Regions from separate parts of the Homo sapiens genome. Here region 2 is reported to be linked to region 1. The links are microRNA targets in miRTarBase. Many come from high-throughput screens and were not tested one by one. Region 1 holds a microRNA gene; the other region holds the end of a gene's coding sequence.

Region 1 (4,148 bases):
GAGATCTGTCCTGGCTTCTTGGGGTGGCGGGGGGTTGGGGGAGCTTCCTGAGGGACACCTGTGGCTTCCTAGACAGAATTGGGGGATCCCAGCGGGATGGTCCCTGCTGCAATCCCACCATGTCCTAGGACAGCAGCAAGGGTTCCTGGGGCTTCAGCCTGAGAAAAGTCCCTGTGATTTGACCTGGCGTCCCTCTGCCGGGCTCCCTGCTGTGGCCTGGGCTAGAGTCCTGATGCCCTCCTTCCACAGCTGGCATCAGGCAGGGCTGGAAAGTAGGAGGACTTGCCTGAAATCTGGCTGGATTTCAGAGCCTTGCTCTGTCACCCAGGCTGGAGTGCATTGGCACGATCTTGGCTTACTTCAACCTCCACCTCCCGGGTTCTAGTGATTCTCCTGCGTCAGCCTCCCGAGTAGCTGGGACTACGGATGTGCACCATCGTGTCCGCTAATTTTTGTATTTTTTTTTTTTTTTTCAGTAGAGACGGGTTTCACCATGTTTGGCTGGGCTGGTCTCGAACTCCTGACCTCAGGTGATCCACCCACCTTGGCCTCCCAAAGTGCTGAGATTACAGACTTGAGCCACGGTGCCCCGCCTGAATAGGAGCTTCTTAATCAAAATTTCAGCATGGCTCTGGGTCAAAATTGACCAGCTGATTTAATAAGTTGATGTAAAAATTTTACAGTCAGCTACCCCTGGGAGGGGGAGTCTCTCCCTAGTCAGTGAGGCACCAGATGCCAGAGCATTGGCAATGTACAAGGGGCTCAGCCCTGTGGCTCATATGTGTAATCCCAGCACACTGAGAGGATGCCTTGAGCCTGGGAGATTGAGGCCAGCCTGGGTAACAGTGACACCACGTCTCTGCAAAAAAGAAAATTAGGGGAGAACTGTGGTGCGTGCCTATAGTCCCACCTACAGGCAGAGCGAGACCATGTCCCCCACTAAAAAGAGGCCAAGAATGCAGGAAATATAGATAATATGGGCCCTGTGATGGGTGGAGGCCAAATAGATCAATACAGAATTGAAGAAGACACAGAGCACTTGTATTTCCCTTCAGGCATAGCGCGCTGGCTAGGACTCCAGTACCGTGAAGGGAGGCAGTGAGAGCAGACATCTGTGCCTCATTCCTGATCTCAAGGGGAAAGCAAGAACAAGGTGGGTGCCAAGGAGGGGCAAGGGGCTGGGGCAGGCATAGACGTGGCTGGTGAGGAAAGGAGGATAGTTGTTGGGGGAAGGTGGGGACATACAAGCAGCAGTTCTCAAAATGGGCAGGGTCCTGGCCCCCTCCCTGCCTCTGCTGAACACTGCATCCCATGCCTCTCCCATGGCCACCTGCTGGGCTAACGGGCTGGATTTAGACTCTGCCCATGTTGGAATCATGCCCTCCTCCAGGGCCGGTGCCTCCCAAAACCCCCCTCTGAGAGAGAGCCACAGCCCCAGGCTTAGCCCCAGGCCCTGTCACTGCTGTTGGGGGAGGGAGGATGAACCATCCGGGAGGCCTCACACCATTCCAGAGCAGAAATCCTGACACAAAAGGAATCTCCCATGGGGGTTCAGCTGGGTCCAGAGCCCGGAAAGTGACATAAACACGCACCTTGCATCTAAGGAGAATGCACGTGGCGGTACCGGGCCTGAGGCCCCTGGGGAGTATGTACCCTCCAGAGCTACCCAGAGGCTGTTGGCTAAAAGTTCTATGTGGCCCCCTCCTTGGGCAGCCTGGTAAGCAGGTGACCTTCTAGCTGGGTCCCATGGGCCACGGGCAAGGCAGGAATGGAACGAAGAGTCAGTCCTCAGTGGCTGGGTGTTGTATCCCATGCCTATAATCCCAGCACTTTGGGAGGCTGAGGTGGGCAGATCACTTGAGGCCAGGAGTTTGAGACCAGCCTGGCCAACATGGTGAAACCCTGTCTCTACTAAAAATATAAAAATTAGCTGGGTGTGGTGGCACACACCTGTAATTCCCAGCTACTTGGAAGGCTGAGGCAGGAGAATTACTTGAACCCAGGAAGCAGAGGTTACCGTGAGCCAAGATCACACCATTGCACTCCAGCCTGGGCAACACAGCGAGAATCCATCTCAAAAAAAAAAAACAAAAAGTCCTCAGGCAGGGTGGGCCACCCTCTTGAGGCCTTGCCCAAACAGCCAGGGGGTCCCTTGTCCTCTTTTCGGCCCACCTTTGCAGGTGGGACCAGTTCAGTCCAAAGCCCCGGTGCCTCAGTTTCCCTGTGGGTTGAACAAGGAGAATGAGGTGTATAGGGCCTGGCTCAGACGGAGGGGTTTCCTGAGCATGGGGAGCCTGTTTCCTCAGACCTGTGAAGGGAAGGAGGGTGGATCGGCCTGACTGGCCCTGGGAAGCACAGAGGAGCCTACTGGGACCAGGGAAGAGACTGACAAGAGAAGGGAGGCCTGTCCCTGCCTGCTTCTGTCTCAAGAAGATTGTTATCACTTCCTCTGGTGAAATCCTGCCTTCCTGTCCCCACGGCCCCTCAGCTGATGCCACCTTACTCTGGAGAGGATGGGCAGAGCCTCCTATGGAGGGAGCCCTGTGGGTCACCAAAGCTCCAGTGACCACCCCCGGGCAAAGACCTGCAGATCCCCTGTTAGAGACGGGCCCAGGACTTTGTGCGGGGTGCCCACTGTTGCTCTGAGCCTTCACTTCCTCAGGGAGGCTTCCTCAGGATCTCGAACCTGCGGAAGGAGGACCAGTCTGTGTACTTCTGCCAAGTCCAGCTGGACATACAGATCAGGGAGGCTGTCGTGGCAGTCCATCAAGGGGACCCACCTCACCATCACCCAGGGTGAGTCCAGCTGCCCTGGCACCAAGGAACCTTCCTGGTTCAGCCATAGGCTCAGGTGTGTGGAGGGAATGACCTGAGGGGCTGTATGAGGGAACAACCTCCTGGGGCTCCCCTATGCCTGAGTTCCTGCAACTCAGAAGTTGAGGCCCAGAGATCCAGGTAGAGGGGGCTCCAGTCCTGGGACTGCCCTGCAAGTCATGTGGCCTGGGACAGGGCTTCTCCAAGCTCTGTCCCCTCCTGTGTAGGGCAGGGAGGTCAGAGGGGACCCTGCAGATCCAGTCTCATGTCTGGGGGTCAAGGGGTGGCCTCGAGAGGGACCAGTCTCTGTGTAGGGGACCGTCAGCCCCCTCACCCCTTGAGCAAGACTGTGGTCCCTGCACCAAGGGAGCAGGCCTGGGGTGGGAAGAGGCCAGCTGGGCTGTGGTGGTGCCTGGGGACTGCATGGGAGCCCCTGCCAGGGAGGGAGAGGGACAGAGGACAAGCTGGGGGCTCTGGTGCTTGGGCTGGGGGCTGAGCGCCTGTGACCTCCACTGGCTTCCTCCTTCTCCTCTCTGAGGACTGAATCTGGGGTGCAGCAGAGCACAGACTCAGGCCCGCCTTTCCTCTCCCTGAAAGAGCCTGCGCTGGCCTTGGACAGAGAAAGGGATGAGAAGTGAGGCTGAGTGCGGTGGGGTCTGCAGGGATCCAGGTGGGAGGGGCCCAGCCAGCCAAGGTGAGGCCCAGCCCCTCAGCAGGAAGATGGGCACTGGGGCCCTTGGGCAGGGCTGACTTGACACTTTTGTGTGACTTGAGCCACTGTGCCCAGCCTGAACACCCTTTCCTGGTAAAACACTCCACAAACCAGGAAGAGAAGGAATGTACTGCAACAAAATAAAGGCCAGTCATGCAAGGCCCATGGCTGAAAGTCTTTCAGTCATTTTAGATGAAAGACTGAAATCTTTGCCTCCAAGATCAGGAACAAGAGAAGGATGCCCGCTCTCACTACTTCTATTCAACACAGGATTTGAAGTCAGGCCGGGCACAGTGGCTCACGCCTGTAATCCCAGCACTTTTGGAGGCTGAGGCGGGCAGATTACTTGAGCCTATGAGTGTGAGACCACCCTGGCCAACATGGCAAAACCCCATCTCTACTAAAAAAAAAAAAAAAAAAAGGATTTGAAGTCCTGGCCGGAGCAATTAGGCAAGGGATAAAAAGGCACCTAAGGCCCTTTTGCAATAAGAAGCCAGATGGATAAAGGAAGTGCTGGTCACCCTGGAGGTGTACTGGTTTGGGGAAGGTCCCCGGCCCCCACAGCCCTCTGGGGAGCCTCACCCTGGCTCTCCCCACTCACCTCAGCCCTCAGGCAGCCCCT
Region 2 (4,000 bases), not on the chromosome of region 1:
AGAAGTGGTGGACACAAGCCCAAGCCCACGACCTGGTCATCAAAAGCCTTGACAAATTGAAGGAGGTGAGGGAGTTTTTGGGTGAGAACATATCCAACTTTCTTTCCTTAGCTGGCAATACTTACCAACTCACACGAGGCATTGGGAAGGACATCCGTGCCCTCAGACGAGCCAGAGCCAATCTTCAGTCAGTACCGCATGCCTCAGCCTCACGCCCCCGGGTCACTGAGCCAATCTCAGCTGAAAGCGGTGAACAGGTGGAGAGGGTTAATGAACCCAGCATCCTGGAAATGAGCAGAGGAGTCAAGCTCACGGATGTGGCCCCTGTAAGCTTCTTTCTTGTGCTGGATGTAGTCTACCTCGTGTACGAATCAAAGCACTTACATGAGGGGGCAAAGTCAGAGACAGCTGAGGAGCTGAAGAAGGTGGCTCAGGAGCTGGAGGAGAAGCTAAACATTCTCAACAATAATTATAAGATTCTGCAGGCGGACCAAGAACTGTGACCACAGGGCAGGGCAGCCACCAGGAGAGATATGCCTGGCAGGGGCCAGGACAAAATGCAAACTTTTTTTTTTTTCTGAGACAGAGTCTTGCTCTGTCGCCAAGTTGGAGTGCAATGGTGCGATCTCAGCTCACTGCAAGCTCTGCCTCCCGTGTTCAAGCGATTCTCCTGCCTTGGCCTCCCAAGTAGCTGGGACTACAGGCGCCTACCACCATGCCCAGCTAATTTTTGTATTTTTAATAGAGATGGGGTTTCACCATGTTGGCCAGGATGGTCTCGATCTCCTGACCTCTTGATCTGCCCACCTTGGCCTCCCAAAGTGCTGGGATTACAGGCGTGAGCCATCGCTTTTGACCCAAATGCAAACATTTTATTAGGGGGATAAAGAGGGTGAGGTAAAGTTTATGGAACTGAGTGTTAGGGACTTTGGCATTTCCATAGCTGAGCACAGCAGGGGAGGGGTTAATGCAGATGGCAGTGCAGCAAGGAGAAGGCAGGAACATTGGAGCCTGCAATAAGGGAAAAATGGGAACTGGAGAGTGTGGGGAATGGGAAGAAGCAGTTTACTTTAGACTAAAGAATATATTGGGGGGCCGGGTGTAGTGGCTCATGCCTGTAATCCGAGCACTTTGGGAGGCCAAGGCGGGCGGATCACGAGGTCAGGAGATCGAGACCATCCTGGCTAACACAGTGAAACCCCGTCTCTACTAAAAATACAAAAAATTAGCCGGGCATGGTGGCGGGCGCCTGTAGTTCCAGCTAACTGGGCGGCTGAGGCAGGAGAATGGCGTGAACCTGGGAGGTGGAGCTTGCAGTGAGCCGAGATATCGCCACTGCACTCCAGCCTGGGTGACAGAGCGAGACTCCATCTCAAAAAAAAAAAAAAAAAGAATATATTGACGGAAGAATAGAGAGGAGGCTTGAAGGAACCAGCAATGAGAAGGCCAGGAAAAGAAAGAGCTGAAAATGGAGAAAGCCCAAGAGTTAGAACAGTTGGATACAGGAGAAGAAACAGCGGCTCCACTACAGACCCAGCCCCAGGTTCAATGTCCTCCGAAGAATGAAGTCTTTCCCTGGTGATGGTCCCCTGCCCTGTCTTTCCAGCATCCACTCTCCCTTGTCCTCCTGGGGGCATATCTCAGTCAGGCAGCGGCTTCCTGATGATGGTCATTGGGGTGGTTGTCATGTGATGGGTCCCCTCCAGGTTACTAAAGGGTGCATGTCCCCTGCTTGAACACTGAAGGGCAGGTGGTGGGCCATGGCCATGGTCCCCAGCTGAGGAGCAGGTGTCCCTGAGAACCCAAACTTCCCAGAGAGTATGTGAGAACCAACCAATGAAAACAGTCCCATCGCTCTTACCCGGTAAGTAAACAGTCAGAAAATTAGCATGAAAGCAGTTTAGCATTGGGAGGAAGCTCAGATCTCTAGAGCTGTCTTGTCGCCGCCCAGGATTGACCTGTGTGTAAGTCCCAATAAACTCACCTACTCATCAAGCTGGACTTGTTCGAGTCATTCTTTGGTCTCTCAGCTCTTTCCAAGCTTTGGGGGCCATCAGTCTCAAGTTTTTCTCGTAATGGTGGTGATGGTGGTTGTGATGGCAGCAGAGTGGTGGGGGCCTTGGCAAGTGGTCGGTGCTCTTCCAGACCAGGGGACACCGATGGACCGATGAAGTTCCAGGGGAACTTGAAGTGCTGTGTTGGAAAGAGGTTAATTTGGGAAGAAAGGAAAAATGAAAGGAGATGCCAGGAACAGGTCAAGGAACCTTGAGGTGTGTCCAGGAGTTCAACCCCGCTTGTGGTCACGAGACCTCGCCTCTCTGAGCCTCAGTTTCCTCATCAGCTGTAGAAGGGTACCTGGACAAGGTGATGTCTCAGGTCCACCCAGCTCTCCCCATCTTGTGTCCTGGAGACTTGGGTCCAATCAGCACTGACTGATGGCTGTGCCTTTGTGGTGCCGATGGAGGCTCCCCTGGGCTCTGGGTGCCTGACTTCCCTTCCTCATGATCCTTCTTCCAGGGTCTCGGGAAACGAGGCTTCCATGGCCCCTCCTGCTTGCTCACTGGACTCTCACTTTCCCAGCTGGTCATTTCCCTGAGACCTCAAAACCCCACCAACCCCACTGGGGCACCCACAGAAAGCTTGTACATGTCTGGCTCTGGCTGAGCACAGGTGTGGTTTCCATCTGCGAGTCAGAGCCCGGGATTGACATGGGACGCTCGAGGCTGACTAGTGTCAGAGGGGCCTGTGTGCAGATTGGGAGAAGATTATCGAGTAATAGAGGGGCAAAGAGGGACATCCAGACAGCAAACACCCCCATCCAGTCTGTCCTCACGTTTTGCCCAGACTCCTGCAAGAACTTCCAGAATGGTCTTCCATGTGCAACTGCCCGTCCCTGCCCATGTCCTGGATCATTCTCCACACTGCGCCAGGTTGGGCTTTAACAAGATCATGTTTTGGGTTTTTGGGGGTTTTTTGTTTGTTTGTTTGGTCTCACTCTGTTGTGAGGCTGGCGTCCCGTGGCATGAGCATGGCTCACTGCATCTTGGACCTCCCGGCCTCAAACTACCCTTCCACCTTGACCCCCTGAGTAGCTGGGACCATCCGTGTGTGCCACATTGCCCAGGCTGGTCTCAAACTCCTGAGTTCAGGTGATCTGTTCGCCTTGGCATTCCAATGGGCTGCAATTACAGACACGAGCCACCGTGCCCACCTAAGAACATAGATTTGATCGAGCACCCACTTCTGACCATTCAATGGCTTCCCATTACTCTTAGCACAAAGATGTAGGCCATGATGCTGCCTAAAGTAGCCTGTTGCGGCCTGGGGTCCTGTGAAGGAAGAGCCAGAGGCAACGTTCTGGTGCAGAGGGTTTCTAGGAAGTGATTCTAGGAGCAGAACTGAGGATCCAGGAGGGAAGGAGGAAACGTTGATACAAGAAGTTTTTGAATGGGCCATCCATATGGGCAATGAGACCTTCTGAGGTGCCTTCAAGGAGCGTCCTCAGAATCTTTGTTTCCAGGGAGGAGACATGGAGGCCTTTATCCACTGCTTTAGCTGTGTCCCAGGGGTTCTGGTACATTGTGTCTTTGTTCTCATTGGTTTCAAAGAACTTCTTGATTTCTGCCTTAATTTTGTTATTTACCCAGTAATCATTCAGGAACACGTTGTTCAATTTCCATGTAGTTGTGCGGTTTTTAGTGAGTTTCTTAATCCTGAGTTCTAATTTGATTGCACTGTGGTCTGAGACACTGTTTGTTATGATTTCCATTCTTTTGCATTTGCTGAGGAATGTTTTACTTCCAATTATGTGGTCGACTTTAGAATAAGTGTTATACGGTGCTGAGAAGAAAGTATATTCTGTTGATTTGGGACGGAGAGTTCTGTAGATGTCTGTTAGGTCCACTCAGTCCAGGGCTGAGTTCAAGTCCTGAACATCCTTGTTAATTTTCTGTCTCGTTGACCTGTCTAATATTGACAGTGGGGTGTTAAAGTCTCCCAC

What was found. Region 1 holds the annotated microRNA hsa-miR-6840-3p (GCCCAGGACUUUGUGCGGGGUG, at 2,609-2,630, shown strand). A microRNA usually pairs through its seed, bases 2 to 8, with sites in the 3' UTR of a target mRNA and lowers its output. Matches are read on the target gene's strand: a 7mer-m8 pairs with bases 2 to 8, a 7mer-A1 pairs with bases 2 to 7 and ends in A, and an 8mer does both.
Region 2: miRTarBase lists APOL1 as a target of hsa-miR-6840-3p. Seed matches in the 3' UTR shown: 7mer-A1 at 1,297-1,303 and 7mer-m8 at 1,626-1,632.

Annotation. Positions count from the first base shown.
Region 1 is chr7:100,354,088-100,358,235 of GRCh38, forward strand. MIR6840 (microRNA 6840) reads left to right here and starts at 2,564; the gene lies at 2,564-2,634. PILRB (paired immunoglobin like type 2 receptor beta) reads left to right here and starts at 4,030. Exons shown (of 4, transcript NM_178238.4): 1 at 4,030-4,148. STAG3L5P-PVRIG2P-PILRB (STAG3L5P-PVRIG2P-PILRB readthrough) reads left to right here. Exons shown (of 17, transcript NR_036570.1): 12 at 1,056-1,153; 13 at 2,663-2,796; 14 at 4,133-4,148.
Region 2 is chr22:36,265,531-36,269,530 of GRCh38, forward strand. APOL1 (apolipoprotein L1) reads left to right here. Exons shown (of 6, transcript NM_003661.4): 6 at 1-1,995. The coding sequence ends at 503. Among named protein-coding and RNA genes, the nearest start is that of APOL1, 14 kb to the left of the region's middle.